Regions from separate parts of the Homo sapiens genome. Here region 1 is linked to region 2. Evidence: fine-mapped expression QTL. A gene starts in region 2. The other region holds a variant in brackets. All regions are shown on one strand. Distances are from middle to middle. Region 1 overlaps SLC44A5 (solute carrier family 44 member 5). Region 2 holds the start of SLC44A5 (solute carrier family 44 member 5).

Evidence for each region. PIP is the estimated chance that this variant, and not a neighbour inherited with it, causes the effect.
Region 1: its variant is fine-mapped to the expression of SLC44A5 in T cells (GENCORD, PIP 0.95).

What each region holds. Positions count from the first base shown.
Region 1 is chr1:75,459,572-75,476,552 of GRCh38, reverse strand. The region is part of intron 2 of SLC44A5 (solute carrier family 44 member 5); the gene reads left to right. Among named protein-coding and RNA genes, the nearest start is that of SLC44A5, 140 kb to the left of the region's middle. The variant T/GT (reference allele first, on the strand shown) is at 8,627.
Region 2 is chr1:75,601,436-75,618,416 of GRCh38, reverse strand. It overlaps SLC44A5 (solute carrier family 44 member 5), which reads left to right and starts at 7,303. Exons shown (of 24, transcript NM_001130058.2): 1 at 7,303-7,377. RefSeq lists a silencer at 2,255-2,474.

The sequences.
Region 1 (16,981 bases), 140 kb after region 2:
TATTCAGGTGGGAGTGACCTGATTTTCCAGGTGCCGTCTGTCACCCCTTTCTTTGACTAGGAAAGAGAACTCCCTGACCCCTTGCACTTCCCGAGTGAGGCAATGCCTCGCCCTGCTTCGGCTCGTGCACGGTGCGCTGCACCCACTGTCCTGCGCCCACTGTCTGGCACTCCCTAGTGAGATGAACCCGGTACCTCAGATAGAAATGCAGAAATCACCCATCTTCTGCGTCACTCACGCTGGGAGCTGTAGACCAGAGCTGTTCCTATGCTACCATCTTGGCTGCTCCCCAGTTAGTAGGTAGAATTCTAAATGCTCTACCTTGTTAATCTTGATAACTTTCTATATATATATATATACTTTTTTTTTTGATACAGAATCTCTTTCTGTCTCCCAGGCTGGAGTGCAGTGGCCTGATCTCAGCTCACTGCAACCTCTGCCTCCCGGGTTCAAGCGATTCTCATGCCTCAGCCTCCTGAGTAGTTGGGATTACAGGTGCGCACCACCATTCCCAGCTAATTTTTGTATTTTTAGTAGAGACAGAGCTTCACCATATTGGTCAGGCTGGTCTTTAACTCCTGACCTCATGATCCGCCCACCTCGGCTTCCCGAAGTGCTGGGATTACAGGCATGAACCACCACACCCAGCCACTGAGATATATGTTGTTTTTATCTCCATTTTACAGATGAAGAAATTGGCCCAGGGAGGTTAAATAAGTTCACCACCATCACATAATTAGTAAGTGGTAAAGCTGGGAGTAGGATCTATTTATTTAATCTCTTTAGCCCTCACTCTTAAACACATATACTATATTGCTTCTCTGATTAGAGCTGAGATATTCTGAGCCCTAATTCCTAATCCTGTAATGTTTCCATTATGGGTATTCTCTGAAAGGTTTGGAGATGGCTGAGGGTTATAAGTGAGACATATATATTAGAGTGGCAGTTAAAATAGTGGGAAATGGGAATGAAAGTAAGCTGGTGAAACTGGCAGAATGAAAAGAGGAGCAAGGAGATATTTTAGAAGGAATGTTGGTTTGGAATTCTGGCTGGACAAGTAATAATAAAATATCGGAAGAAAATAGATCTTTCTGAGTAATCAGAGAAATAATACTTGTTCAGAGGAGTTTAAACTCAATCGCTAATTGAGGGTTGGTTCTTCCCAAGAGGAGTAGCAAAACAAGAGGTAATATCAAAGCTCATCTACTGAAATTTCTATCAAATACCTTCCTCATCATTCCTTTCCTTCTTTCGAAATAAATTTTCTATCATGATTGTTATTTGTCTTTTACAAGGTTTCCTCAAATGATATTGGAAGGACATCTAGAAAGAGGACATAAAGGCCACTCTTCTTATTAGGCTTTTGCTGAGCTGTGAATATTTAAGAGATGAGGCGTAAGATCATCATTATTGATGTTATTTTTCCTTATGAGGGGTTCTTTCATAAATGCCACAGAGGGCAAGTGGTAAAGGACATGGAATTCAGGCTCCTCATTTCACTTCCTGCTGATGTGTGAATAACTCAGGGGCGACACACAACGATTTTACTTTATGCCATTTGGCATTTCATTCAGGCAGTTGAATTGTTGCTGCTCTCTTACCAGAGGTCTTAGTAGGGCCATTTTAGTAGACCTGTGCTTTGGAAGAATTCAGAATTACTTGAAAATTCCAGTTACTAACATATGCTTTTTGAAACAAATTATATGAAAAGAGCAGTTATATTGTTTATTATAAAGTTAGCCTAAGTAGAATTTTCTGGATTGTTTTTAAAGGAAGCCCACTCACATCATAATTAAATATGTATTGAAATAAGAGAAATTTGGGGTATAAAATTTTACTAATTATGACTCTGTCTTGTATTGTCATTTTGAAAATGTGTTTGAGCCACATAATTCTATGCCCCACAAAGAAAACTTCCAATTAACTTGGACTACTAATTGGCAATAACAAAACAAAACATCCTTGTGTAACATTACACGTAAATGTCTTACTATCAAGATTAGCTAATGACCTATATCTTAATTTTATGAATGACAATAACTCCACTATATTGATTATCAATCCAGAAAATGTTAAAGTCAGAGGAGAATATTGGCATTGAGGTGTGAATTTGAAAGCATTAGTATTATAAGATTGAAAGTAGTGTTCTCGTGAATGAATGTAAGTATATATAGAGATAATTATCCTGGGAACATGTTTAATTTAGCTTTAGTATGCAGTGTTAAATGACTTTATTTAATAATAAAACAGAATGAATCTAGTAAGTTTAGACTGGACAAATTTACTATCGACAGTAAGTGCCTAGGAATTGACAGAAGGTGCAGACTGTATGACAAAGAAATCTAAATATTCTTAGAAGTTCCTTCTTTTTTTATTTTTCAGATTGTTGCCATTCCCCATCTCCTGCCTTGAATCTTAGAATGAAATCTGTTATTGACAGTGAACTAATTTAATGAAGCAGTGTTAAATATTCAATGAAGCAGCAAATCTGCTCACATTTTTATTAACATATATTTTTGAAGAAACAAAGCAAGTCTACAGGCATAAAACAATGTTATGTCTATATGTCATGTATGTGCAGGTATTGAATCAGGACTAAAATATCTCTGATATTCTATGACACCACCACACTACAGAGCCACAGAGCTCATATTTAGAAGATTCATTATATTACTTAGTACTAAATATACTGCCACCAGCTAGGCTGGACAAATTTGCTATTGGACAAAGTTGGAAAAGGCCACAACAGAGGAAAAAATTATTTTCTTATTTATAAAGAAAGGGAATTTATAAAATTATGGAAAGAACATAAAAAATAAGGCTAGAGTCAAGAAAAAGCACTTGTAAAATAAGATGCTGATTATAGTGCTAGAATTAGAGAAGCTGATACAATAGGGAAAGTCATCTGTAAAAGTATTATCTCTTGAAATTAAACATAGAAATGTGAATAAGAAAACATCTATGTGTGAATGGATTTTGAGTGGGGCAGATAAGTGTTTTTAGCAAAGAACAGCGCAAATCAAGTACCCCCAAATTCTGCAAGAAACAAACAAAACCCCATCGCCTACCTCACCAAAAATTGTCTGACACAGTTGGGCTAAATCCATGTCATCAACTTAGAATTTGCTTTGGAAACCAGCAAGTGAAGTTGAGTCATATTTTCAGAGGCTTCCTCTTCCTCTTTGGAAAATCATCAACACATTTTCATCTTGTAAGCTATGTTTTTTTTCTTTTATAACCAGCATTGATTTTAAAAGCTTTATCCAATTCTTGGTTCTTGAATGTCCCTGAAGATATTTTTGAAGGATTATGCAAAGTGTTGCTCCCTCTGGAACTCCCATGTAGGCCCTGGAGATGTTGGGAAATGCTTGTGAGTAATTTTCATGCATAAAAAAGGACACTTAGCTGAATGCTAGATTGTAATTCAATCAGGAAGTTCCGATGACATTCTAAAACTGTACAGTCTGAATGCTTTATGAATAATACCACATTGCCAACACTGAATTACAGCTAGTATTTTTACACGAGGACTAGGAATACTAGCAACATAAAACAGTTTTATAGCCAGTTACCTTTGAGGTTGAGGGAGATGACAATTCATCACACAGAAGTCTTTAGTGCATCCCACAAAGATTATAATATGTGTAAGAGTGAAGGCTTGCCACTTGTTAGTCTATGAGAAGGATTTAAGTATAGAGGACACGGTGGTCTGCAAAACATTATAGGACTTGTGAAATGAGGACAGGGCTGCAATGCTTTTGAGGACACTCGGGTTGCCAGAAACACAAATCCTAGTCCTCATAAATACCACATTTGTGCTTTAATCATAAAAATTCTATTGAGACTAACCTTTCAGTGAGGGAATATTATCTAAAGAGAGCACAGTCATTTCAGCTGCTAAATGAAAAACTTGTATTTTATAAGCCTAGAAAAAAGTGAGTTGAATGTTATCATAAGATAACACATGGTCTTGAGGCACCCTGGGGCGCTGATATCTCACTTCACAGCGCAAGCTCAAAACACTCCTAGCTTGCTTAATAATTGTCAAAGTTATTTTAATTTGAACCATAACCAATTATTTATGTAAAAGAACTGTAAGAATGATAGTAGGAGAGCAAGAACATGAAAATTTATTTTTTTTCAGGCTTGTTGAGATTAATGAACCCTCAAAGATGTTATTAACTTTGCAGAATGGGTACCACATCTAAACAGCTATGCATTTCAAAATACCTTGGCTTTCTTCTCAAAAGAAAGAATTAAGTTGATACTCATGACTGAATCAGAAAGGTACTACTGACAGGTGCTCGGCACACTTTCCCCTGCATGACTCACCCTAAAGATACCTTATTTTTTCCATGAAGCCTTTTTATTCTCATATTTTTCTTTGGTCTTGTTTGAAAGCTCTATTCCCAGTGGCTTGAGAGAAGAAGAATAAACACCCAGGCCCCAGTAGTTTTTTTTTTTTTTTTAAACCCAGGGGGATATGCTCTGCCTATTGTCCTGAACACTAGCCAAAATCCTACTAAAATACAATATCTAGTATTGCCAAATCCTGCTTAGAGAGACATGAGAAACCTGAGAGTTCCTTCCATGGCTTGCCACAAAACAGATTATGGGTCTGGAAAATAAAAATAACCAGGAAGTGGCATTATAAATATAGATCAGAGAAAAAAAAGCCTTAGTGGTTCCTTGTTCATGGTCCTTAGGAATGTGCAGAAGTTTTGGACAGAGGATACAAACTAGCTTATTTGATCTTCTCTAGGCATAGGTAGAATAAGAGTAAATGCCCATAAGAAACTACACAAAGGGTTTAGAGACTGAGCTAAGAAAAAGCTGCCAGTCTGGAGTCAGTAGAAGAAAATTAAGAAATAGAGGGCAGTGGAATGCCAGAGAGAGGAAATACTTTGAACACATTAGCAAAGGAAAAATAGAAAAAAAATCATATTTGGAGAAGAGACATGAGCTCTGCCCGCATTCTCTTGAGATCTTTTGCTTGATTGAGGGCATGGGCTTTCCCCCTGCCATGATTGAGATAAAAGGCTATGATCAGGTAGAGGCAGTGCTTTGGAAGCTGCTTATGTCATTCCTCCCTCCTTTTCTTTTGTCCTGGTTCTGATTTAATTCATGGGTGTGTGTGTGTGTACGTGTGTGTGTGTGTGTGTGTGTGTGTTTTCATGCACACAAGCTTATGTATTAGATGGAGAGGGATTTGAAATTTTTCCTTGTTGAAAGGAAGGCTTCAAATGAAACAGCAATCCATCTCGCAGGAAAATTCCCATCCTGGGGATTCCCTTCAAGGCAGAAATTCAAGCAATGATGAGAAAGGTGCCCTTAGACTTGCCCAGTAATGAGATGTTACAAGCCATTAATTTTATGAAACTCCAAAGAAACACAGCCAGGCCGTAAAAAAAAGGTTAAAAAATAGATCTTCAACGAATCACTGAGAAAATACTAACTTTCCAAGTCCAGGGAATAAATTTGTCTGAGCCCTCTATTTTTCCCTCTCTGCATTATATTTGAAGATAGTTGTGTTTTGTTAGCTTTTTCATTTACCCCCAAAATACTTGCAAAATGCTTTAGTTTTAGAATTTTCATGTAATTGAGGAGTTAGAAACCCACCAAAGGTAGGGAGTCAAAGCAGAAACAGTTACTCAGATGCCTCTGGTAGCTATCCATTGTTCTAGAGAACAAGTCCATACTCGTAGCTTAAAAGGGATGGCAGGATGGCACTCTTATTTAACTCCTTACCCACATCTCTCCACCTGGACAGCCCCTCCCAACCCTCCCACCATACTTATCTCAGTTTTTCGACATGCCATGCCAGGTCACGCTTCTCTCTGGCCTTGGACATTCCATTTCCTCTGCTTCAAATTCCTTTCACTAGGCTAACACCTACTCATGGTGTAGGTTTAGCTTAGACTTCACTTTCTTCAGGAAGCTGACGCCAGTAACATTCCCTCCCCCTCACGTCTGGGTTATGGCCCCTCCTGCGTGCTTCCATTATACCTTCCCTATCTTGGTAGTCTTCACACTATATAATAATTTAGATGCCTATTTACTTGGCTGTAGTAGTCCTCACTAGACTATAAATTCTACCGTTATGTTACAGAAGAGCTCATACAACATAAACTACCTTTTGTGGAAGGATTATTTCAAACGTGGGGACCTAATTTTAGCTGTGGCAGTACGTGAGGAACATTTATAAGGTAGGGCACAACTGTACATTCACTTGGTTTCTCTTGAGTGCTCATTCTCTTCCATCTTTGAGTATGTTTTTTACTGCTGTTTTAAAGTATAGCCCTAGGGTTCTTGAAAACCAAAGCTTTTAGCTTCACGTGTAGACTTCATTCAATTTTTTTAAAAAGTATTGTCTTGAGGATTGATTGGTTTGAAAGCTTGGTTGTTATGAAAAGCTCTTATCTTTCCAGGGTTATTCCTTAGTTGCTCTTACAGAAACACCAAAACTGTAGGAATATCTTTAATATGCTGTCAAATAGAAAGGTTGGTGATAAATACTTGCCTCTAAAGAATGTTTTAGGAGCTTAGGAAATATGCAAGTCATCCGTGAAGCCCTCCTCCCTTTGAACTGCAATTTTTTATTATGGGAGTCAGGATACGTTGACTCTACTTTTTTTTTTTTTTTTTTTTTTTTCTTCACAAGGTCTCTCTCTGTCGCCCAGGCTGGAGTGCAGTGGTGTGATTATAGCTCACTGTAACCTCGAATTCCTGGGCTTAAATGATCCTCCCACCTCAGCTTCCTGAGTAGCTAGGACTACAGGCATACACCACCATGCCCAGATAATATTTACTTATCGTTCAGACAGCGTCTTGCTATGTCTCCCGTTGGTCTCAAGCAATCCTTCTGCCTCACCTCCCAGAAGGCTGGAATTACAGGCATAAGCCACTGTGCTCAGTCTGACTCTACTTTTTGTCTCAAAGCCAGGACACCTTATCCCAATGGCATAATATTTTTATTCCATTATACGCCGTACCATTTTAGTGATTTTTTCCCCTAAGTTCTACACACACTGGTTTCAGAATGATATTGCCAAAAGGAAAGAAGAAGAAATTCACTACACTTTTTTTTTTCTGGGAATGCTAGTAAAATCTGCATCTAAATTATATAAATGGTATTATTGTCTTCTTAAGTGGCACATGGTGTTACAGCTCACGCTTATTATGTCATCATTTACCTTTCATAAGTATTTTCAACATTCTTTTATCAATCAGTTAGTCTTCAACTGTGCTGTCCAAGATGGTAGCCTCTTTTCACATGAAGCTATTGAGCACCTGAAATGTGGCTAGTCTGAATTGAGATGAGCTGTAAATGTAAAATACAGACCAGCCTTCAAAGACTTGGTTAAAACAAAAAGGATTCAAAATATCTCATTTTTATCTCAAATAAATGAATTTATATTGATTACATGTTGAAATGATAATCTGAATATATTGGGTTGAGTAAAAGGCATTATTAAAATTAATTTCATCTGTTTCTTTTTACCTTTTTAATGCAGCTACTAAAAAATTAAAACTTGCATACCTGGCATGCAATATATATACATTTTTAATTTTTCATTTTAATTTTTGTGGGTACATAGCAGGTGTATATATTTATGAGGTACATGAGATATTTTGATGCAGGTATGCAATGTATAATAATCACATCATGTAAAATGGGTGTATCCATCCCCTCAAACATTTATCTCTTGGGTCACTAATAATCAAATTATGCTCTTCTTGTTATTTTTACATGTACAATTAAATTATCATTGACTATAGTCACCCTGTTGTGCTGTCAAATACTAAGTCTAATTCATTCTTTCTATTTTTTTTGTACCCATTAACCATCCCCACATCCCCCAAACCCCATTGCTGCCTTTCCCAGCCTGTGGTAACCATCCTTCTCCTCTCTATCAACATGAGTTCAATTATTTTGATTTTTAGTTTCCACAAATAAGTGAGAACATGGAATGTTTGTCTTTCTGTGCCTGGCTTATTTCACTTAGCATAATGACCTCCAATTTCATCCATGTTGTTGCATATGACAGGCTCTAGTTCTTTTCTATGGCTGAATAGTACTACATGGTGTATAATATGATGTTTTCTTTATTTACTCATTTGTTGATGAACACTTAGGTTGCTTCCAAATTTTGGCTATCGTGAAGAGCGCTACAACAAACATGGGAATGCAGATATCTCTTTGATACACTGATCTTTTTTCTTTTGGGTGTATACCCAGCAGTAGGATTCCTGGATCATATAGTATCTCTAGTTTTAATTTTTTGAGGAATCTCAAAACTGTTCTCCATAGTAGTTGCACTGATTTACATTCCCACCAACAGTGTATGAAAGTTCCCTTTTCTCCTCTCCTTTCCAGCATTTGTTTTTGCCTGTCTTTTGGACATAAGCCATTTTAACCGGGATGAGATGATATCTTATTGTAGTTTGACTTGCATTCCTCTGATAATCAATGGTGTTGAAAACCTTGTTATATGCCTTTTGTATGCCTTTTTTTTGAGAAATGTCTATTCAAATCTTTTGTTCATCTTTTGATTGGATTATTAGATTTTTTTCCTATAGAGTTGAGTTCCTTATGTATTCTGGTTATGAATCTCTTGTCGTATGG[T/GT]TGTTTGCAAATATTTTCTCCCATTTTGTGAGTTGTCTCTTCACTTTGTTGATTGTTTCTTTGTTGTGCAGAACTTTTTAACTTAATGTTATCTCATTTGTCCATTTTTGCTTTGATTGCCTGCACTTGTGGGGTATTACTCAAGAAATTCTTGCCCAGAACAATGTCCTGGAGAGTTTCCCTGAAGTTTTCTTTTAGTAATTTCATAGATTGAAGTCTTAGATTTACACCTTCAATCCATTTTGATTTAGTTTTTGTATATGGCGAGAGATAGGCATCTACTTTCGTTCTTCTGCATATAGATAACCTGTTTTCCCAGCATCATTTATCGAAGAGACTGTCTTTTCCTCAGTGTATGTTCTTGGCACCTTTATTGAAAATGAGTTCACTGTAGGTGTGTAGATTTATTTCTGTGTTCTCTATTCTGTTCCATTGGTCTATGTGTCTGTTTCTATGTCACTATCAAGCTGTTTTTGGTTTCTATAGCTCCATAGTATAATTTGCAATTAGGTAATTTGATTTCTTCAATTTTGTTCTTTTTGCTTGGGATAGCTTTGGTTATTCTGGGTCCTCTGTGGTTCCATATAAATTTTAGGATTGTTTTTTCTATTTCTGTGGAGAATATCATTGGTATTTTGATAGTGATTGAATTGAATCTGTAGCTTGCTTTGGGTAGTATGGACATTTTAACAACATTGATTCTTTCAGTATATGAACCTGGAATATTTATCTATTTCTTGGTGTCCTCTTAAATTTCTTTCATCAGTGTTTCATAGTTTTCATTATAGAGGTCTTTCAGTTCTTTAGTTCATTCCTAGGTATTTAGTTTAATTTGTGGCTATTGTACATGGGATTACTTTTTAAATTTCTTTTTTCAGATTGTTTATTATTGGCATATAGAAATGTTACCGATTTTCGTACGTTGATTTTGTATCTTGCAACTTTACTGAATTTGTTGATCAATTCTAATAGTTTTTTGTGCAGTGTAGGTTTTTCCAAATACAAAATCATATCATCTGCAAATAGGACAATTTGACTTCTTCCTTTCCAATTTGGATGCTCTTTATTTCTTTGTCTCATTGCTCTAACTAGGAATTTCAGTACTATGTTGAATAACAGTGGTGAAAGTGGGTATCCTTGGCATGTTCCAGATCTTAGAGGAAAGGCTTTCAGTTTTTCCCCATTCAGTATGATAATAGCTATGAATCTGTTATATATGGCTTTTATTCTATTGAGGTATGTTCCTTCTTTTTTTTTTTTTTTTTTTTTTTAAGATGGCATCTTGAACTGTCACCCAGGCTGGAGTGCAGTGGCACAATCTCGGCTCACTGCCACCTCCACCTTCCAGGTTCAAGCAATTCTCCTGCTTTGGCCCCCCAAGTAGCTGGGATTACAGGCACCTGCCACCACGCCCAGCTAACTTTTTGTATTTTTAGTAGAGACAGGGTTTCACTATGTTGGCCAGGCTGGTCTCAAACTCCTGACCTCGTGATCCGCCCACCTCGGCCTGCCAAAGTGCTGGGATTACAGGCATGAGCCACCACACCCGGCCAGTGTGTTCTTTCTATTTCTAGTTGTTTGAGGATTTTTATCATGAAGGATGTTGAAATTTATCAAATGCTTTTTCAGCATCAATTGAAATGATCATATGGGTTTTGTCCTTCATTCTGTTAATATGATATATCACATGGATTGGCTTACGTATGTTGAACCATCCTTGCATCTCAGGGATAAATCCCATTTGGTCATGACAAATGGCCTTTTAAATGTATTGTTGAATTTGGTTTGCTAGTATTTTGTTGAAGATATTTGTGTCAATATTCATCAGAGATATTGGCATGTAGTTTCCTTTTTTTGATGTCTCTTTTTCTGATTTGGATATAAGAGTAATACTGGCCTCGTAGAATGAGTTTGGAAGTATGCTCTCATCCTCTAATTTTGGAATAGTTTGAGGAAAATCGATATTAGCTTTTCTTTGAATGTTTGTAGAATTCAGCAGTGAAGCCATTGGGTGCTGGTCTTTTCTTTACTGGAAGACTTTATAACAGCTTCAATCTTGTTACTTGTTATTGGTCTATTCAGGTTTTGGATTTTTTCCTGGTTCAATCTTGGTAGTTTGCATGTGTCTAGGAGTTTGTCCATTTCTTCTAGATTTTTTAATTTATTGGCATATAGTTGCTCATAGTAGCCACTAAGGATCTTTTGAATTTCTTCAGTATCAGTTGTAATATCTCCTTTTTCATTTCTGATTTTATTTATTTGGGTCTTCTCTCTTTTTTTCTTAGTCTGGATAAAGGTTTGTCTATTTTGTTTATGTTTTTTAAAACCAACTTTTTGTTTTATTGATCTTTTGTATTGTTTTCTTCATCTCAATTTCCTTTATTTCTGCTCTGATTTTTATTATTTCTTTTCGTCTACTAATTTTGGTTTTGGTTTGCTCTTGCCTTTCTAGTTCTTTAAGATGCATTGTTAGGTTGTTTGAAGTTTTTCTTCTTTTTTTGGGTAGGTATGTATGAGTACTGCTTTTGCTATATCCCATAGGTTTTGGCATGTTGTTTCCATTATCATTCGTTTCAAGAAATTTTCAGTGTTCTTAATTTCTTCATTGGCCCAATTTCCTTCTTAATGTCTTCATTGACCCATATCCAGGAGCATATTGTTTAATTTCCATGCATTTGTATAGTTTCCAAGATTCTTCTTGTTGTTGATTTCTAGTTTTATTCCATTGTGTACAGAGAAGATGACTGATATTATTTCATTTAAAAATATTTTAAGACTAGTTTTGTGACCTAACATAAGGTCTGTCATTGAGAATGATCCATGTGCTGATGAACAAAAAATGTGTATTCTGTAGCTCTTGGATAAAATGTTCTGTAAATATCTATTAGATCCATTTGGTCTATAGTGCAGATGAAGTATGATGTTTCTTTGTTGATTTTCTGTCTAGAATATCTGTCCAAGGCTGAAAGTGAGGTGTTAAAGTTTCCAGCTATTATTGTATATTGTACTGGGGCCTCTCTCTTTCTTTAGCTGTAATAATATTTGCTTTATGTATCTGGGTGCTCCAGTGTTGGGTGCATATATATTTAAAATTGTTATATTCTCTAGCTGAATTGACTCCTTTATCATTATACAGAGACCTTTGTCTCTTCATATAGTTTTTGTCTTGAAATCTATTTTGTCTGATACAAGCATAGTGACTCCTGCTGTCTTTTGGTTTCCAATAGCATGGGATATCTTTTCCCATCCCTTTATTTTCAGTTTATGTGTGTATTTTTTGTAGGCAACAGGTTATTACTTCTTTTTTTTCCCATCCATTCAGTCAGTATATTTTGACTGAAGAGTTTAGTCCATTTACATTCAACGTTATTATTAATAAATAAGGACTTCTGTCATTTTGTTCTATGTTTTCTGCTTGTTTTGTGGTCTTTTCTTCCCTTTCCTTCCTTTTAATGAAGGCGATTTTCTCTGGTGATGTGATTTAATTTCTTGCTTATTTTTTGTGTATCCATTGTATGTTTTCTGGTTTGAGGTTACCATGAGGCTTGCAAATACTATCTTATAACTCATATTTTAAGCTGATACCAACACTGTTTCATAAACAAACAAGCAAAAAGAAAACAAATAAAGACTCTATGCCTTAGCTTTGTCCTCCTGCTTTTTACCTTTTTCTTCTTTCTTGCTTTTTTTTTTTTTTTTTTTTTTGAGACAGAGTCTCACTCTGTCGCCCAGGCTGGAGTGCAGTGGTGCAATCTCGGTTCACTGCAACCTCCACCTTCCAGGTTCAAGTGATTCTCCTGCCTCAGCCTCCCGAGTAGCTAGGACTACAGGTGCATGCCACCATGCCCAGCTAATTTTTTGTGCTTTTAGTAGAGATGGGATTTCACCATGTTAGCCAGGATGATCTTGATTTCCTGACCTCATAAACCTCCTGCCTTGGCCTCTCAAAGTGCTGGGATTACAGGCATGAGCCACTGCGCCCGGCCTCTTGTTTCTATTTATATCTTATTGTGCTATGTCTCAAAAAGTTGTTATTGTTTTTGTTTGGTTCATTGTTTAGGCTTTCTACTTAGGATAACAGTAGTTTACACACCACAGTTACAGTGTTGTAATATTCTGTGTTTTTCTGTGTACTTACTATTACCAGTGAGTTTTGTAACTTCAGATGATTTCTTATTACTAATTAACATTCCTTTCTTTCTAAGTGAAGTACTCCCTTTAACATTTCTTGCAGGATGAGTCTAGTATTGATGAAATCCCTCAGCTTTTGTTTGTCTGGGGAAGTCTTTATTTCTCCTTTATGTTTGAAGGATATTTTCACCAGATATATACTATTCTAGGGTAAAAATTTTTTCCTTTATTGCTTTAAATATATCATGCACTCTTTCCTGGCCTGTAAGATTTCCACTGAAAAATCTGCTGCCCGACATATTGGAGCTCCATTGTACGTTATTTGTTTCTTTTCTGTTGTTGCTTTTAGGATCTTTTTTTTTTTTTTTTTTTTTTTGAGACAGAGTCCCGCTCTTTAGCCCAGGCTGGAGTGCAGTGGCACAATCTCGGCTCACTGCAAGCTCCGCCTCCCAGGTTCACGCCATTCTCCTGCCTCAGCCTCCCGAGTAGCTGGGACTACAGGCGCCTGCCACCGCGCCCAGCTAATTTTTGTATTTTTAGTAGAGACGGGGTTTCACCGTGTTAGCCAAGATGGTCTCGATCTCCTGACCTTGTGATCCGCCTGCCTCGGCCTTCCAAAGTACTGGGATTACAGGCGTGAGCCACCGTGCCCAGCCAGGATCTTTTTTTATTAATCCTTGATCTTTGGGAATTTGATTGTTAAATGCCTTGAGACAGACTTCTTTGGGTTAAATCTGCTTGATGTTCTATAACCTTCTTGTCCTTGAATATTGATATCTTTCTCCAGGTTTGGGAAGTTCTCTGTCATTTTCCCTTTGAATAAACTTTCTACTCCTATTCCTTTCTCTACCTTCTCTTTAAAGCCAATAACTATTAGATTTGCCCTCTTGAAGCTATTTTCTAGATATCGCAGGTGTGCTTCATTTTTTTAAAAAAATTCTGTTTTCTTTTGTCTCTTCTATGTATTTTCAAATAGCCTGTCTTCAAGCTCACTAATTCATTCTTCTGCTTGATCATTTCTGTTATTAAAAGACTGTGATGCATCCTTCAGTATGTCAATTGCACTTTTCAGCTCCAGAATTTCTGCTTGATTCTTTTTAATTATTTCAATCTCTTTGTTAAATTTTTTCTGATAGCATTTTGAATTCCTTCTCTGCGTTATCTTGAATTTCATTGCATTTCCTCAAAACAGCTTTTGAATTCTTTGTCTGAAAGGTCGCATATCTGTTTCTCCAGGACTGGTCCCTGATGCGTTATTTAGTTCATTTGGTGATGTTGTGTTTTCATGGATTGTCTTCATTCTTGCAGATGTTCATCTGTGTCTGGGCATTGAAGAGTTAAGTATTTATTCTAGTCTTCTCAGTGTGGGCTTTCTTGTACCAGTCTTTCTTGGGAGGGCTTTCCAGGTATTCTAAAAGACGTAAGTGTTGTGATCTAAGCTGTATTTGTTTTAGGGGGTACCCAAAGTCCAGTAACACTGTGGTTCTTGCAGACGTGTAGAGGTGCCACCTTGATGTTCTTGGACAAGCACTGGGAGAATTCTTTGGATTACCAGGCAGACTCTTGTTCTCTTCCCTTACTTTCTCCCAAACAAACAGAGTTTATATCTTTGTTCTGAGTCAACTGGAGATGGGGGTGGAGTGACATAAGCACCCTTTGGCTACTACCGCTAGGAATGTCCTGGGTCAGACCTGAAGCCAGCACAGCACTGGGTCTTGCCCAAGGCCTGCTTAACTACTCCCTGGCTATGGCCTATGTTTGCTCAGTGCCATAGGGCTCTACAGTCAGCAGGTGGCAAAGTCAGCCAGGCCTGCGTCCTTCCCTGCAGGATTGTGATTTTCTCCAGGACCCAGGAGGGTCCATAGGTGTTGTTTGGGAGCCAGGAACTAGAGTCAAAAACCTTAAAAGGCCATCTGATGTTCTATTGTACTTTCCATTTTTCCCTCCCCTTTCCAAAGGCAGAGGAGTCTTATCCCATACCCACCACCACTCCAGGCCATGAGGAGTACTGGCAGATTACTACCAATGTTCCCCCTAAGGCCCAAGGGCTTTTTAGTCAGCTTATTGTGAATGCTGCCTGGCCTTGGACTCACTCTTTAGGGTAGTAGGCACTCCTCTGGCCGAGAGCAGTTTCAGAAATGCTATCCAAGGGTTTGCTTTGTATTTTTATTGGACAGTGCTGGCCTAGACAGTAACTCAATAATGAGAATTTTATGTTTTCTTTTGCTAGGAAAGAGCTATTTAGTCACCGTGGCTAGCAAAATTTGGTGACTTGGTTGACTTGGACAAATGGGATCCTCAAAACACAATTAAATATATCTAATGTCCTGAGACACACCACTCATAATAATATTAATAGTTACTCCAGTGAACTAATAATATTATTTACCTCTTTGGATTTTATAAGGATTCAATTAAGATAACACGTGTGTGAAGGTTGTGACCTAAATAATATTATCTTACAGGGAGAAAGGTGCATGTGAAAATTGTCAGAGATGAAAATGGTTAGGGAACAATTTTAAAACTATTTTCATACCTGATGTATAGTAGTAATGTGCTCGATTATCTGTGGAATTAATTTGATCATCAGAGAAGAGATCTCTTTTGGTTTATGTGAAGACTTTGTATGCCAAAAGCATTTTTTGTGTTGCTATATAATCTTTGTAAACATTCTTGTAAATGGTGCATGACATTTTGTTTAATCAATATACCAGCCTTTATTTAACCATTTTCTTTTTCTCGGACATTGGGTTGCTTCCATTTTTTTTTTCACTATCATTAATATTATGGTGATATACATCTGTAAAACTCTCCCCATATTGTGGATAAATTTGCAAGGATGTCAGACTGATTTTAATGGAGATGAATTATGTAAGAATGGAAAACCATTCAAATTCCTGACTAAAAGTGAACAATTATCCAACTAGAAGGTAGTTGGATGTAAGTGATTTTCTTACCTGTCTTGCATTTCTAGGGTAGAAAAGATAAATGGAGAAAAGATTGGTTAAATGTTGACATGAGATTATTCCTATTGAGAATATTGGCAATAAAAATAGCAATAATATCAGTAGAGATTTGGGGGATATTTCAATTCCAATGTCTAGATCCCTTTTATTGGAATCTTGAATGTTGAGTTTTAGTCTCATTGAATAATTTTATCTAAAGTAGTCAAAAAGACTCTGAGATTGTCCCACAGCTGCATAAAGACCCATATAAATGACCAACATTACATGTGAATTAGTTTAAATCTACACAGTAGGTTTAGCAATACACCAACTTTGTTTGTAAATGGGCTTATATCTTCCAGTTTCATAAAACGTTTTTGGGAGAAAGGTTTCACTTTGTCCATGACTGTGCATCTGTAAACATTTTATCTTTAGAGCAGATGTTTAAAGCCCCAAAAGTTGAGTTTACATTTTGTGAAATATTTATTGTCTTAATCACATAGTTTCTGTACTGGTAGTAGGTTAGAAATTTCAATTCATTCCAAATAAAGTTGGGCGGAAGTAGGAAGGCAATGCCAAATTAAAGCAGAGTACTTTAATAATGATTCCTTTTAAAATAGGGCTTCTCATTATCATAACATTATAAACTCCATTTGTCCTCAGAGTTCCAGAGTTCAAGAGCTCCTACAGCAGAGCTCATTCATGTGGAGAGAACAGTGCAGAGAATGTATATATAGTGAGGCAGATTTGTATAGTTTATGTTCGATGTGTATATAGCCATTAATTTTAATATAGTCGCCCTTACTCTCAGGAACACCTGCTACCTGAACAATCCAGTTTTAAAACCAACTCTCCAAGAATTATTTCCTACTTCTTCTTCCTGGTTTTCAGGGCATTGCTTAAGCACTGCTTTGTATAAGATTCACGTGCCTCCTGTAGTTCCAACTGCAGCAGGAGGATTTCTTGAGCCCAGGAGTTTAAGGCCAGCCTGGGCAACATAGTGAGACCCTATCTAAATAATGATAATAAAAGTAATATGTTTTTAAGTTACAATTACCATTATATTGGTTGAACATTTGAAAGATTCTAGATGCTTTACAGACTATGACTATTGGCCTGCATTACATGCCATGAATTCTAATAATTGTGTGCTGATAAGATGACATTCTGGGTTTCAAAGGAAAGATATTCCATTTAGAATTAGAACCCCAGGGCTCAGGTGCTAACTATGTTACTTGGGCAAGTCACATAACTCTGAAAGCTACTGTATTTCCTTCTC
Region 2 (16,981 bases):
TTGGCCTGGAAATCCAGGGCCTGGGTAGTTGTGGCCTTAATGTCTTTTGGTCTCAGTTTCCTCATCTGTTCAGCAGGGCTGAATAAACCTCTTTTGATGATCTTATGTGATTGTCATGACCTTAATTGAGATAATGCATGTAAGGACACTTTGAAGTGCTAACAGTGTAAAAGCATATTAATCACATCCATGTACCAAAAATAGTCCTAACTAGTCAACTAAATTTGAGTCTCCTCTGTTGAGAATAGTACTGACATTGTGGAAGGAATAAATTAGAAAAAGGAAACCATTCCTGGTCTGAAGCAGAAATATTCTATTTCACATAGGCAGCTAGTGTTGTGGAGAGAGCTGGGTATTGAGTTAAAAGAGTTACACCGAAGCTGTGGGCAAGTTATCATACCTCCACGAATCCCATTTCACCGTCTGTAAAACCTAGAAGACAGGACCTGCTTTTCAACTCATGGGTGTGGTCATGATTAAATGAAATAAAGTATGTGAAAGTAATGAATAAACAGAAAAACATTATTCTAATATAGGCAATAATTAGTAGTTGGTGATAAAATATGAGCACATAAAATGGACTGAAATATTTACAAAGTCTAATATTATACACAGTAAACATTTGAAGACCTAGAAGAGTAGTTTTTAATTAAATAAGAGGCAGCTGTTTGGAAGAGGAAAACTTTGAGTCAGTCTTATTTCTGATCATAAGTCTGAGAATGGGTCTATTTTGCTTATTAAAAGAAACATGTTCTTTGTTTTTTATTTCTGATGCACATCTTCATTGTGAGAGGAATTGGTCATTTCACATGTTTCTAGATTATTTACTTCAATATATTACATTATATGAAGCTATATTTAGAAGGGCTGAAAAAATAACTTGTGATGATTTTGTCACTAATATCTCAGGAGCTGGAAGAAATTTTTGAGATGATATCGCACATATCAGAAAACAGAAGAGCAGAGAGATTGAGTGACTTGTCCAAATTCTCAGAGCTACGAAGTTACAGGGCCAGAATTCACAATTGGGGTTTTTGACTTCACTGTTCTTTTTGCCGCACCACACTAGTACTGGGGCAACTTCTGGGTGGAGATATTGAATTAACTCACTGAATGTTTAGACAATCAGATTGGGCTGGGAACTGTACTAACCTAGGAGGAGGAAAGGAGAAGTGTTAAGAAGGTCACTGCGAATTAGGAAGTGCGTTTCGGCGGCAATCTCAGCTGCAGCATATAAAAAAAATTCGATATTGTAGCCTCTTCCCACAGTGGCACACCCTGGTAACCTCTCCCTACCCTACCCTTTAAGCGTTTCTTTTTAAGGTCCGATACTCCTTTATATTCTTAAACTTTCGCCTGCCCTTGCAGTTCTGGGACGCCAGCAGAACTTCTTTTCATCCCTTATCAGCACGCGAGGGGAGGACAGCTCCTCCAGGAACATGAGAACTTTCCAAAGCAAACCCCCAATCAGAGAGAGAAAGAACGTGGCCACTGTAACCAAGTTTCTGCTGGAGGCCAAGAAATCACACCTCCGGCTTCCAATTCCTCCAACATCTGAGAGCGTGAACTTCCCTCTTTTCCCACAGCCCCAAGGGAACTATCCTGGGCCCTCACTATTAAGAACTTCAGGGCCAGAACACAGCCATTCTTGCAGGTGTCTGCCCGTGGGCTGCCTCTGGAATTCCATTTCTCTCCCCTCCATCAGACTCCTGTTTCCCTCTCCCCTCTTTCCTTCTCGGTTCGGGAGGGGCAGAGGCAACCGCGCGCTTCGGGGCTCATCGCCCGCGTGGAATTCGGGCTCGCTATCCTCGAGGAGGCTGTGGAGGAGGACGGCTCCTGGGCCGGGTCGCAAGGGACAGTGCCGTCCTCCCGCAGGTGGCCAGAGTTCTGGTTGGCCTGTGAAGACGGGTGTCTTTCTTGGGCCCAGCGCGTCCTGGCCTTTTGAGAGGGGGCTTCGAAGGCCCAGAGGAAGGCAGGCCGGAGGCAGACTCCATCAGACTCTGCCTGGCTTTCTCCTTCCCGGCCCCAGATGGCCGCGGTCTCTCCGCGCCCCCCAGCAGCTCCCCGCCGCCGCCACCGTTGTCTTTCCAGTAGAGGCTGCTGGATGACGGCGCGGTAGCCGGTTGGATGGGGGCTGGCGGCTCAGACGGGACACCGGGGGTGGGGGCGTGGGGGAGGGAGGGTGTGGAGAAGGGGGAGGTCAGCGCTGGGCGGGCGCTCAGGGGACCCAGCGCTGCCCCCTCCAGCAGCAGGAGCAGCACAGCAGCCGCCGCCGCCGCAGCAGCCACCGCGTCCACAGCAGCGCAAGAGGGGGGCCAGCGGCGCGGCCGAGAGCAGAGGGGCGGCGGCGCCCGCCCCAGCCGAGCCGAGCCGAGCTGAGCGCGCAGCCCGGCCGCCGCTGCTGCTCGCAGATGCCATCACAGCAACAAAGAGCTCGCTGAGCTGAGAGCCGCGGCGAGGGCTCGCCTGGGAGCTGCGCGGCAGCCGGAGGAAGCGCGTGGGGGGTCCGGGGGAGGGAAGGGGACAGAAGATGGCCAAGAAGAGAAAGCCCCCCAGCATCAAGGGTGAGTCCCGCTCCCTCCTCCCCTCGCCGCCTCCCCTCTCTCACCCGCCCTCTGCCCCTCGGGCCGGCCTGTTTACATCCAGGCGCGGCCAAGTGGAAGGCTCCTGCCGGGGAAGAGTTTGCCGTGTCCGGGGAGGGGGTGGGGGAAACCGCGGCGCCGCTGCACCTCCCCTGGCCTCCGGGGACACTGACAGGAGTTTGTGCCCCTTTTGCAACCTGGGGAAACCTGGAGACTCCTCTCTCACCCCACCCCTTTGCTACTCGGCGAGCTTGGGTATCTATCTGTTGCACCTCCTAGCCTCTGGGCAGTGGGGAGAGAAGCGACTGGGCTCCTAGCATCTTGTCTTTTCCGGAATCTCTCTCTCTCTCCCTCTCGTGTGTGTGTGTGTGTGTGTGTGTGTGTGTGTGTGTGTGTGTATGTATGTGTGTGTGTGTGTAAGAGAGAGAGAGAGTTTTTCATGGTCTCTTCTATTCTTTTCTTCCAATCCCCCCTCCCTCCGCCCCTTCGTCCCTAGGGTGACAAGTTCTGCATCCATTTCCCCAACCTCCATCCTCAGGAGGAGATTGGAGCTGGCTGCCTCTCCTTTTCCCTGCGGTCAAGGGGACTTGCTACCGGCCGAGTCCCTGCAGGCTACTTCCTGCTCCCCAACCTGTCGAGACGGGCAGTGGCTCCGGCTAAGCAGTCTCCCTGTTGCTCCTTTGGAACCCGGGCTTCCAAAGTTGGAAAGTTCGCGGAGAGAAGCGATGGCGGGGAGGACAAGGAAGAGCTTGTTGCTGGGGTGACGAGGCATTGCGGCGTGGTCCGGGGCGCGACTCGGGAGGGAGCCTCCTGGGCTGCGTCTTGCCTAGGGGTCGCAGAGCCGGCGCGCGGGGAGCAGGTGCAAGCCACCCGCTCCCGCAGCGCGGACTCGCAGAGGTCGCAGCTTGTCGGCTCCCTAGCTCTCGCTGGGGGACTCGCAGAGCCCTAGAGGTTGTCTGCAGCACTGCAGAGAGGTGGAAGTGGGCTCGACACCATGCGCGGTGAGGAAGGCTGTGCGCGGGGGAACTGGACCTGAGGATGGTGGCAAGGAAGGGGCGTCGTTCGAAGTTGGATTTCAACACAATGGGCCCAATGACCTGGGAGGCAGCGACTTACTGAGCCTTTGGGGTTATATAAAAAAGGACAGGAACTCAGATGAGAACTGAGGGGTGAAGGGTATTACTGAATACATTGGCTTGGACTACAGCAGCGCTCAGGCTTTGGCGTGCTTTTTGCTTTTCCTCCCAAGTCTGGCTTGTGGGAGCTTAGCTCCGCTCTAGAGGTCACTAGGGGGACACAACTTTATCTTGGCGCGTCAGCTTGCTTTTTAATTGCTCCGGAGTACTCAAAGCACTTACTGGAAAGCGTTTAAAATCATGATCCTTAATTCTTAAGAAGACATTACTATGAAAACACCTGGGACTTTTTGTTGTTAAAAATTATAACCTATGTATGACAATTTTATTGCAATGCCTTTTCTTAAAATATTATAGCTCCTGTAAAATTAGAGGGGCTTTAAACCTCTGATTCCCCCCCTCCATAAATTAGCGCATGGGTATAGAGATACACGAGTAAAGAAAGAAGAGAGAATATATTCACCTACAAACAGATTCCTCTCTTTATCATAATATCAAATAATTAGTCTAAGCCCAGATTGACAAGGCGTATGAGCTACACTTTTGGTTCGCTCCTTTTTTATGGAGCCATATGGCACGATGAGTGAAACAGAAGGATTGGTTTTCAGCACTGCTGATGTGGCTATCCATTGGCAGAAATACATTTCATTCCCACCCCAAACCTTGCAGATTGTAAATGGTCCATGAAGAGTGGAAAAAATTTTACAGTTTTACAGTACATGGTAGCCAGAGAAAATCTTACCCTTGAAATTAATAATCTTGGCAGAAGCACAAAAAGATACAATTAGATTGATGAAATGAGCTCATATAAGAGATTTGATGAAAAAGACACCTCCCCTTTATTCTTCCGTCCCCTCAAAACACCAAAAAGTTTTTGTTTTGTAGGTCAGTATGGAATCATTTGTATTTTCTTGAATAAGTTTAATTTGATAGTGAAATAATTGAAGAATAGCAGTTAAGTGTTAACAGTTTCTCTGGAAGGATTAATAATCAAGCTTTCTTACGACATGTGGTCTCAATAAATTTTATGTAGTACTTTAAAAATAAGGTTTTCTCATGCTACATGTTTTTCTTAAAGGAAAAGTTATGTTACTTAGCTCCTATCAACTTGTGTTGAGTTGTTCTTGTTTTTTAAAACAAGTTCATTTAGTATTTCACAGAAAGAAGGACACCTTTAAAAACAAATCCTTGGAGTTTCACTTTAGCGAAGCAGGATGAATTGTGATATTTGATAGATGACAGAAGCAAACCCAGAAAGTTGTAATCTATTGACTTGCCTCAATTTTGCCTTTTAAGAGGAGAGCTCTACAAAAGCATCTGACTGCAGGCTTGCTGAACTGCTCTCAGATGTCTGCTTCTAAGCTACAACCAACTAAACTGGGACTGCCTGGTAGGAAAAATTTCTAGGCTTTATTGGCAGGGGCAGGCTACTGGGGTGAACTTTGCTGGATAAAACACTGTAGATTTAGCAATATTCCATGCTGTGTTGGTTATTCTCTTACAAGAGCTGCTTCTCTGCTTAGCTACACCGCATGCAGGGAGAGATCATTCGTCGGATCTTGTGACAGGCAAGTTGCTCATTGGCTTCTGAAGTCCTAGCAAGAGAGACTATCCATAAGCCTAGAAATTGGCCAAAGAGAAATGCAGTTTCTTAACATTGATAGAAGAATAAGATCTGTTGGCAGGATTTCTCAAGGGACATTAGCATTCATTTGTGACATCTCATCAAAAGGACAGTCTTTCAGAAAGGCCAATGGAATCTTTTACAATCCAATATTGATAATGTTTTTAACGAAAAAATGCTATAGTTCATAATCAATACAAGTCTTATAAATGCAAGCTGGTTACATTGGTTATAATCACGTCACCACCCCCACCCCTGCCTTTTCCAATATTAGTACAACAAAGACTTCTTGCTCAATTACTTAAGTGTAAAACTTATGTTTAGGTTAATTTATTCATTTATTCATTTAGCACATATTTATTGAGCACTGAATATGTACCAGATTCTGTGCAAAACACTAGGGATACGGTAATGAACATGATAGACAATGAAGTAAGAGGAGGCCTGGAAGAAGCAGGTGACAAATAATATGAACCAGAAAATTTCACATAGTGATTAATACCAGGAGAAATAAAACAAAGTGATGTGCGAGCAAATGATTTTGAGGTTACTTTAGATTGTCTGGAAAGGTGGCATTTGTGTCGGGAAACAAGTGATGAAGAGTAATTTGCATGCCAAGAACTGGAACATAACACTTCAGGCCTTAAGGTAGAAATGAGGTGGTAGCTTGGCACATTCACATACAAAAGGAAGAGGTGTAATGTGTAAGGAAGAGACAGTTAGGGAGAAGCCAGGCCTTTTTGGTCATAAAAAGGAATATAGAGTTTAAGTGCAATGAGAAGCCATTGGATATTCACTTGCTATTTGGGGATACATTCCTCTCCTGGAAGATTATTTCAGGGAGAGGAGCATTCCTACATCAACTCCCTAGGCCAACTAAGGTGACCTAATAGACTTCACTTTTCTAAAAGGTCCAGTTATACTCACGTTATTTTCTCTTGCTATTCACCAGAATACCTATGCAATTTCAGGCTGAGATATTGATAGCATCTCTAGGAATCCCTGCTTAGAAAACAATTCTAGAGAGAATGAGGATTAATTTAACATTTAGTACAAGATGATAAGATTAGTCACTTCCCTGGCAAGCCTTTCAATGCAAGTAAGTCTTAGGAAAAACATATTGTAATGGTAGAGGGGGATTCTGAGGGGTCCAGAACATGACTGTGCAGTAGGCAGAATGTGGAAGGCAGCATGAGGGGCTCCTAGATAACAGAAAGGGGTCCACAGAAGGAGAAGAGTGATGTTTGGAAGGGGACATGAGAAAGCCTCTAAAACAACATCAGCCAATTCGTGATTTTGCCAAGTGGAAGCCTGATATGAGCATGTTCCAAGAGAAACATTCTCATTCAAACACAGAAAAAGTTTAAACCAGGGTACTTTTATGCTTTTGACTGATCTTTTTATAATGAAGCATTTGTAACAATAAAAGCACACAGATGTTTACAAAGTCTCTTTGATTTTACTTAATCACTGTCAGGTTGTTCTGATGGATTACAGACCTCACAAATGAAAATAGCATGAACATATTAATGATAACTGCTGTTTGTTGGAGGTAGTTGCTTGATAGCTAGTTAAGGAAATCATGCTCTTGGGTCTCATTTTACTGTAGAGATGTTGGTAAGTGGGATATGGGGTATATTGGATGATTTTCTTTCCCCTAAGCATTTGTGACAAGAAGGTGCTATGATATTCAGGAAAGACACAAATAATAGTAGATTATTTTAAAGGTAATCATGGCCTACTTCCACCTCCAAACTACCTACTTCTTTGCCAAGGATTAACAATGAAAAAATATACTATAGCTCCAGGACTTTGTTCAGTCTCCTCCCCCTCTTTATACTCCAAGTGACTCCTTTGAGGCTAGCAAGGCTAGTAGGACCTCAGGGATTACCTAAGAATGGGGTATGGCCCTTAGTGATACTGGAACACAATGTGTTTATGACATCAGCTTTTTTTTCACAGTAGTGAATCGTAGCATGTTAGAGTTAGAAGGTTCAGTGTTGATGGAGTTATTGAAGAAATGATGGAGTAAGAGGTGAGTGATACTGCTAAATGCAAGAAGTCTATGTCTGTAGGAAAATTGGTCAAGTTTGTTATTCATAAGTACGTATTCTATACAACTCAAGAAATACACACACACACACACATATATATAGTGAAGTCTGAATATAAATTAGGAACTGAGCACTTCCTCTCCGTGTGTGTGTGTGTATATATATAGATATCCTGGGGGATTATTTAAAGAGAGTAGTATTTTTACATCAGCTCCCTAGGCCAAGTAAGGTGACCCAATGGACTTCACTTTTCTAAAAAGTCCAGTTACACTTATGTATCTTCTCTTAATATTCACCAAAATATCGACAATATTTCGGGCTGAGATGTTGATAACATCTCTAGGAATCCTTACCTACTGGTATTCACACCTGTTCATACTCCCCTTCCAAAATGAATCACAGCTGACCATGTGATCAGTACTGTACAGCAGAAAACTACATCATAAAGACATACACTATGGCTTCTGCCTTGTTCTTTTGTATTCTTTGCTTTCTTATGTTGCTCATTTTGGGGAAACCAGATGCCATGTTTTAAAAATACTCAAGGATCCCTTGGATTATTTTTTGAAGCAGAGGTTCATACAGATATTATTAACATTTCAGCCCAAAATATTGTCGGTATTTTGATGAATAGTAAGAGAAGATACATAAGTATAACTGCACTTTTTAGAAAAGTGAAGTCCATTGGGTCACCTTACTTGGCCTAGGGAGCTGATGTAGAAATATTGCTCTCTCTAAATAATTCTCCAGGATATCTATGTGTATATAGGTATATGTATGTATATGTATATACCTATGGAGAGAGAAGAAGAGCTCAGTTCCTAATTTATATTCAGACTTCACTATGTGTGTGTGTGTGTGTGTGTGTGTGTGTGTGTGTGTGTATTTCTTGACTTGCATAGAAGTCTTGAATCTTAGCTCTGTGTGGGAAGAACTGAGGCCTCCTGCTAATAGCAACAACTTGCTAGTTATGTGAGTGATCTATCTTGGGAACAGACCCTGCAACCAAGTCAAGCCTTCAGATGACTGTAGCTTCAGCCAACATCTGACTGAATTTCATGATAGCCCCGACCCAGAGCTATCCAATCAAGCTGCTTCTGGATTCCTGAATCACAGAAACCATAAGATATAATAAATGCTTACTCTTGTCTTAAACCACTAAAATTTGGGGGTAATAGGTTACATAACATTAGATCATGAATATACCTGTGGTTCATTATTTTTGCACCTCTATCATGAAATGTAATATTTGTTACTAGTTCCAACACTGATCTTGAATCTTAGCCCTCTTTCCTATTTAGTGAATTGGGCTGAAACCCTGAAGTTCTCTTTTCTTGTTTCCCTTGAGTTTCTTGTAGCAGCTTGCTTTCTCCTCTGCTTTTTTGAGTACTGATTCCTGGCTCCTCTAGTTCATTTAGTTTAGAAGATACTTTCCAAATTGAAGCACTACCGAACCAAAAATCAGAGTGATAAAGAGAATACAAAAGCCCTAAAATCTCCCAACAGCACAAGATTTCACAGTCCTCCAAACTAAGAAGATAGAAAGTTTCTTAAAATCTACAATCTTTTATTCTCACCATCAAAAATAAGAATGTAAGGTAATGAATATGTTAAATAGCTTGATTTAGCCATTCCACAATGTGTATATATATCAAAACATCAGGTTTCACACCATAAATATATAAATTTTTACTTGCCAATTAAAAAAGAAAAAACCCAAAGAAATGAAACCCTAAAATATTCAAATAAAAACCTTTCCAGCTGTATTTATCTATTCCTCCTTACCAAAGAATCCCTTCCTCCTCCCAGCCCAGTTAGTCCTTTGAGGTATAAATAGGAGACTGAGAAAGAGGATTTAAGAAAGGAAGGTTGCCGTCTCTTCTACTTGAGAGTAGGATATTAATCTATTTTATTCGTTCATGTAGTTCTCTATTCATTCAATAAGTGTTAATCAATCGCTTACTATGTACTGGGCACTATTCTAAGCATGCTTGGGATAAATCAGGGAACAAAATGAATTCTTCATGAGGTTTACACTATACATAGGGAAGACAAACAATGAATAATAAGCATGAATACATTGTTGATATTAAAAATTGAAAAGTGCCATGACAGAAAGAAAAAAAAATGAGCATAGTAAGGGGGATTTGGATTGCTAATCATGGGATGATGGTGGGCCAGCTGCAAGTATTAATAGGGTGGTTAGGGTAGGACCAATTGACGAGGTAATATTGAAGGACATGAAGCAGTGGAAGGGGAGGAGACTTCCAGAAGGAAGGAAAAGCCAGAGCAAAGACCCTACAGTGAAAATATACCTGGTATGTTTGACTAACAGAAAGAAGACCAAGTGGAATTAGTAAGGGGGATAGAAATAGAAAATGAAGTCAGAAAGATGAGGGAAGACTAAATTATATTAAACTTTTTAGAAAGTTTTAAGACTTTGGTTTTTACTCTGGGGAAATGTGGCACCAGTTCAGATTTTGAACAGAGGAAAAATATGATCTGACTTACATTTTAAAATAATTGCTACGGCGACTGTGTTGAGAATATCGAGCCAATATGTAGGGGTAATGAGAAACTAGAAGACTAGTAAGGAATCTTTTGCAATAACTCTTTAAAAATTTTCTTCTTCTGGTGGCTGAATAATACTCCATTGTGTACACACACAACACACACACACACACACACATACCCCTCACATTTTGTTTATCCATTCATCTGTGGATAGACACGTAGGTTGATTCCATATCTTTTTCTCTGGAAAAATATATTTTCAGTTCCTTTGCCTATTTTTAAGTTGGGTTATTTGTTTTTTTTTGTTTTTTGTTTTGTTTTGTTTTGTTTTTGCTATTGACTTACAACAACATGGATAAACCTGGAGGACTTTATACTAAGTGAAATCAACCAGGCACAAAAAGAAAAATACTGTATGATCTCACTTATATGTGGAATCCAAAATTATTGAACTCATAGAAGCAGTGAGTAGAATGGTGGTTGCCAAAGGCTGGGGGAGTGGGAGAAGTGAGGAGATACTAGTCAAACAGTACAAACTTACAGTTATAAGACAAGTTCTGGGGACATAATATACAGCATAGATAGTGATGGATATTGTATTAGTTTGTTTTCATGCTGCTAATGAAGACATACCCAAGATTGGGTAACTTATAAAGGAAAGAGGTTTAATTGACTCACAGTTCCACATGGCTGGTGAGGCCTCACCATCATGGCAGAAGGTGAATGAGGAACAAAGTCACATCTTACATGGCAGCATGCAAGATAGCATGTACAGGGGAACTCCCCTTTATAAAACCATCAGATCTCATGAGACTTACTATCATGAAAACAGCATGGCAAAGACCCACCCCCATGATTCAATTACCTCCCACTGGGTCCCTCCCATGACATGTGGGAATTATGGGAGTTACAATTCAAGATGAGATTTGGGTGGGGACACAGCCCAAACTATGTCAGATGTGTTATTAAATTTGGTTGTAATAATTATTTATTATACAACGTGTACATATACCAAATCATCATGTTGTACACTTTGAATACATACAGTCTTTATTTGTCAATTAATATTTTAAAATAAAAAGTTGCTTATAAAAAATAATTCAGTTGAGAGATGATAGTGGCATCTATCAGGGTAGAAGCAGTGGTGAACATGAGAAATGGAAGGATACTGAATATATTTTTAAGGTAGAACTTATATAATTTTAAAAACTAACAGGATGTTTCATGTGAGAGAAAGAAAGGAGTGATGGATTAATGCACAGTTTTTGACCTAAACAACTAAGAGAAGGTGGACTTGGCATCAACTACTATTTGAAGATTGTAGAAGGGGCAAGTTTATGGGGAAGGATCAGAAGTTTAGTTTTGGACACATTTGGGTTTGAAATATTTATTTGATATACAAGTGAAGATGACAAGTAGGAAGCTGGATATGTAAGTCTGGAGTCTTGGAGAGAGGCTTGGGCTGATCATATGAATTTGGAATTCATCAGAACATTGGTGGTATTTAAGATCACAGACTGGAAGACTCACTGGGAATTGAGTATAGATTGAGAGAAATGATCTGAGCCCAGGGCTGCTCCATTATTAAGAGATAAGTGAGAAGGGGAGGAGTCAGTAAAGGAGATTGAGAAAGAGCAACTGGTGACTAAGAAGTGGGTGTGGGGTCTTGGAACCAAGGAAGAAAGTGTATCAAGGAGGAAAATGATAATCAACAGTGTCAAACGCTGCCCATAGGTCAGGTAAGATCAGGGTTGAGAAATGGCCATTGTATTTATTAATATGAAAGTCATTGAAGACCTTAATTAATTAATATGAAAGTCAAAGACAGCCCAGGTGAAGTGGTGGCAATGATGCTTTGAGTGAAGTGGGTTAAGAGAGAATGAAGAGGAGGAAAATTAAAGACAGCACAGTTAACTGTTTTGAAGGGTTTTGCTTTAAAGGGAGCAAAGAAATGATATGGCTGGGGATGGGAGTTGTGGAGTTGAAAAAAGATTTGCTTTTTTAAGATGGAAGAATAATAGTGGGTTTTATTCCTTGTTGTTTGTTACTATCTGTGTATTGAGGTGGGTTTTAACCTCTCTTTTACTATTTTAAATTTTGGGTGCTTTTTATGACAGTTTCCTATGGAGGTAAGATGAATTAATGTAGAATGGTCTTATGTTGCCTAGTTCTAAGGATGTTTCTCTTTTATCTTCTTTTACGTCTTTAAATGTATTATCTTTAAGAAATATTAAATGGAGTATTAAGAGAGGTATAGAAATGGATTTTCTGACAAAATAATAAAATATGCCATAGTAGGAAAAAGTTTCCAGAAGACAAGAGTTTGCCAGTCATCTTGTTGCTGACTGTGGCAGTCCATTCCCTCACTTGAAAGGATCTTAAAGAACTAAAGAAAAATTAAAAAAAAAAATTGTGCGGGAACTAGCCTAATGCTTCTCAACCAGGGGCAATTTTACAGTGTCTGGAGATATTTTGATTGTCATGACTGGAGTGGCGCTGGTGGCATCCAGTGGGTAGAGACCAGGGATGCTACTAACATTCTATAATGTACCTCCTCACAACAAAAGATTACCTAGTGCAAATTGTCAATGTTGCCAAGGCTGAGAAGCTATGGGCTAGCCCTATCATCTTTCCTTTCTTCCAGAGAGAAGCTAGGAAGCTGCTTCTGAAAAAGGGATCCGGAAGCAGGAGCTTTCCCTATCCCATTGTTCTGTGTTTAGATGAGACACAGCTTTTAAATAAATGATTAGGGTTCAAAATAAAGACATTTCTTTTTTGCCTTTGCTTTCTCTTTACCCCCTTCTGTGGATTCCCATAGTATAATCGAATTTTATAACTTTTGGTAGTTTCCCATTAGGGCCCATGACAGAGGAACATTAAAGTCATGGTGAAAAATTCCTCATTCAGTTGAGAAACCACAATTTCACATTGCTGATTTCTATTCTGCATCTGTCTGACAACTTAGTGAAGGAAAGGATGAAGAATAGGGTGATTTGTTAAGCTCTGACTCTACAAATCACTATAGCTTTTTAATATGAAAGGAGGGGTGGCCTCTCAGGCATCTTTTTTTGTAGCTTTTTTGGGCCATTAGGATTTTGGATGAGAGCTGCATTGTTTATTTATTTATTTTTATTTTTTCTCCACCTTCTCATTCTTAATAACTCTACCTTCAATATGTGCCTTATCTTTTAAGAAAGGCTCTGAAGAAACTCAGAACAGGTCCTAAGTGCTTGTTGAATGAAAATTTTCTTGTAGAATCAAAAATTTAAAACCCAATTTTAAAAGAAGCAATTTTAAATTCATAGTTTTTAAAAACTTAAAAGGCAGGTTTTTAAATGTAAATTTGCTAGTTCTCTGGATTGTCTTTCAGTGTTCAAAGTCAAAGACAAAAATCAGGCTTTCAAATTGACATTTTAGGAAGCATCCCCCTTGAGAACTGGAACAAGACAAGGATGCCCACTCTTCCCACTCCTGTTGAACACAGTACCGGAAGTGCAAGCCAGAGCAATCAGGCAAGAGAAAGAAAGAAAAGGCATCCAAATAGGAAAAGAAGAAGTCAAACTATCTCTCCTAGGAATCCCTAAAGACTGCCAAAGACTTTTGGAACTGAAAAATGACTTCAGTAAAGTGTCAGGATACAAAATCAATGTACAAAAATCAGTACCATATCTTTACACCAATAATGTTCAAGCTGAGAGCCAAATGAAGAACATAGCCTAATTTACAGTACACACACACATACACACACACCCCTTGGTTTCACCTCTAACCAAGGAAGTAAAAGGTCTCTACAAAGAAAACTACAAAACGCTGCTGAAATAAATCATAGATGACAGAAACAAATGGAAAAACATTCCATGATCATGGATTGGAAGAATAATAAAATGGTCAAACTCCCCAAAGCAATCTACAGATTCAATGCTATTTCTATGAAGCTACCAATGGCATTTTTCACAGAATCAGAAAAAACTATTCTAAAATTCATATGGAAGTAATAAAGTAATAAAGAGCCCAAATAGGCAAAGTAATCCCAAGAAAAAAGAACAAAGCCAGAAGCATCACATTACCTGGCTTCAAACTATATTGTAAGGCTACAGTAAGCAAAACAGCATGGTACTGGTACAAAAACAGACACATAGACCAATGGAACAGAAGAAAGAACCCAGAAATAAAGCTGCATTCCTATAGCCAGCTGACCTTCAACAAAGTAAACCAAAATCAGCAATGGGGAAAGGACTCTCTACTCAATAAATGGTGCTGGGATAACTGGCTATCCATATGCAGAAGAATGAAACTGGACCCCTACCTTGTTTGATATGGAAAAATTAACTCAAGATGGATCAGAGAATTAAATGTAAGACTTCAAACTATAAGAATCTTAGAAGAAAACATAGGAAACACCATTCTGGACATTGACTTTGGGAAAAATTTATGACTAAGTCCTCAAAAGCAATGACAACAAAAGCAAAAATTGCAAGTGAGACCTAATTAAACTGAGTAGCTTTTGCACAACAAAAGAAACTATCAACAGAGTAAACAGACAACCTACAGAGTGGGAGAAAATATTCACAAACTGTGCATCTGACAGAGGTCTAATATCTAGAATCTATAAGGAACTTAAACAATTGAACAAGTAAAACACCAATAACCCCATTAAAAATAGGCAAAAGAAAGACATGAATGGACAGTTCTCAAAAGAAGACATACAATTAAAAAAAAGAAGACATACAAGCAGCAAAAAAAAAAAAAAAAACATGAAAAAATGCTCCACATCACTAATTACCAGAGAAAGGCAAATCAAAAATCACGAGATACCATCTCATATAAGTCAGAATAACTATTATTAAAATTTAAAAATATTTGGGTGAGGCTGCAGAGAAATGGGAATGCTTATAAGCATATATACACTGTTGGGAATGTAAATTAGTTCAGTCACTGTGGAAAGCAGTTTGGAGGTCTCTCAGAGAGCTTAAAACAGAACTACCACTTGACCCAGCAATCCCACTACTGGGCATATATCCTCAAAAAACAAATTATTCTACCAGAAAGACACATGCACCCGCATGTTAATTGCAGCACTATTCACAATAGCAAAGACATGGAATCAACCTAGGTGCCCATCAACAGTGAATTGGATGAAAAAAAAAAAGGTACAAATACACTATGGAATACTATATAGCCAAAAAAAGAACAAAATCATTTCCTTTGCAGCAACATGGATGCAGTTAGAAGCCATTATCCTAAATGGATTAATGCAGTATCAGAAAATCAGATACCACATGTTCTCGCTTATAAGTGGGAGCTAAACAACAGGTACTAATAGACATAAAGATGGCAACAATTGATACTGGGACTGCTAGAGTGGAGAGGGAGGTTGGGGGAAAGGGTTGACAAATGAACTGTGGGGTACTATGCTCAGTACCTAGGTGACAGGATCAACTGTACTCCAAACCTTATCATTACACAATATAACCAGGTAACAATGTGTATATGTACCCCCTGAATCTAAAATAAATGTTGAAAAACTCTCAAACCCAAATTAAATATACATAAATAAATTTACATTTTATTAAAAATGTATTACTACTCTAGATTTGCCTTACAGGAAAGTCAAAACTTATTTTAAGCTTAGCCTATGATTATATACATTTGTACGTACAAGTTTAAAAATATCCAAAGTCATAAAATTTAACAAAAAAGGTAAAAGCTACTTACTGGGCATTTATGCTTCACAAACTAGTATTAACAGCACCTTTCACTTTGAAATACTTTTTTTCGAAGTGAAAAACACATTTTTCTTATTTATCTCAGCCTCTTATCACACTTTTGTTTGGTTGCACAAGAATGTCATCACATTCTTTACTCATGGCAATGACATTGATTCTGCTGATTTAACACCTTTGCTTTACTGAAAGAGTATTGGTGACTAAAGGAGGACCATTATTGCTCTTTAAAAAATGTTTAATCATAAATAGATGTGTCCAGGGATATCTTAACTGTATGAGGTATGATAGGCTTGAAATTATAAAGCACAGCTTTGGAATACACCCCTCCACAATCCTTAACCACTCAGAAAGTCTTACGTTAATACATATTATTTTTTGAACTTTATGAAAACTGCATTGAATAATTATCACACTTCCTACACACCAACTTGTATTTAATGATTTATGGAAACATTACTAAGACAAAAGAAGGACATAGCCTTCACTTGACTAATTCTAAGACCAAGGCTCCCTATGTTTTAACTTCTGTAAACTCTCACTGCCTGAATAAATACCTTAGGTATAATGAAGCGTAGGCAAATAATAGATTATAAATAAGTTGACCGAGGTCAAGAGAGGCATTTAACCTATTTAACCTATTTGGGAAAACAACCCATTTTCAAATTTTTAACAGCAGTAAATGGTAGAAAAGTATACTAATTAGAAATAATCATTTACTAAAGCAAATCTTTGAGGAAGTCTAATGAGTAGTTTCTTTAGCCAATTGCTTGTATTAAAGGACTGGAATAACTTTTGAATATTCAGAATTTTCACAAGTTCAGACTTCCTTCAGTTGGCCCTATTTAATGAGTTTTTATGCTGCATCTTGTATTTCTGAAAATTGAGTTTTTGTTTGTTTTGAGGCTGAGAATTTTGAGAACTGTCATTGTCAGACCAATGTCTCAGGAATCATTAGGAAAACAACTCGGGGTGGGAAGGTGGTTAGATGATGTCGTTGAGTGATCTTTATGGAAGGGAAATTTGTGAGAGATTTTCTAAATAAAGATGCAAGATTTTCATTGCTTTAGATATGCTAAATTTTTTTCCTGGAATCAGTCAGACCTTGAGATAGCTCTTTACCCAGCTTGTGTTATTTTGGTCCCTGCAGAAGTGCTTTTGCTGATTTGTGCTTACCTGTTATAATATTGGCTGGCATTGAGAAACTTGACATTGTATTAAGTTCAAGGATGTTATTTCTCTCTCTTTTTTATTATACTTTAAGTTGTGGGGTACATGTGCAGAATGTGCAGGTTTGTTGCATAGGTGTACACATGCCATAGTGGTTTACTGCACCCATCAACCCGTC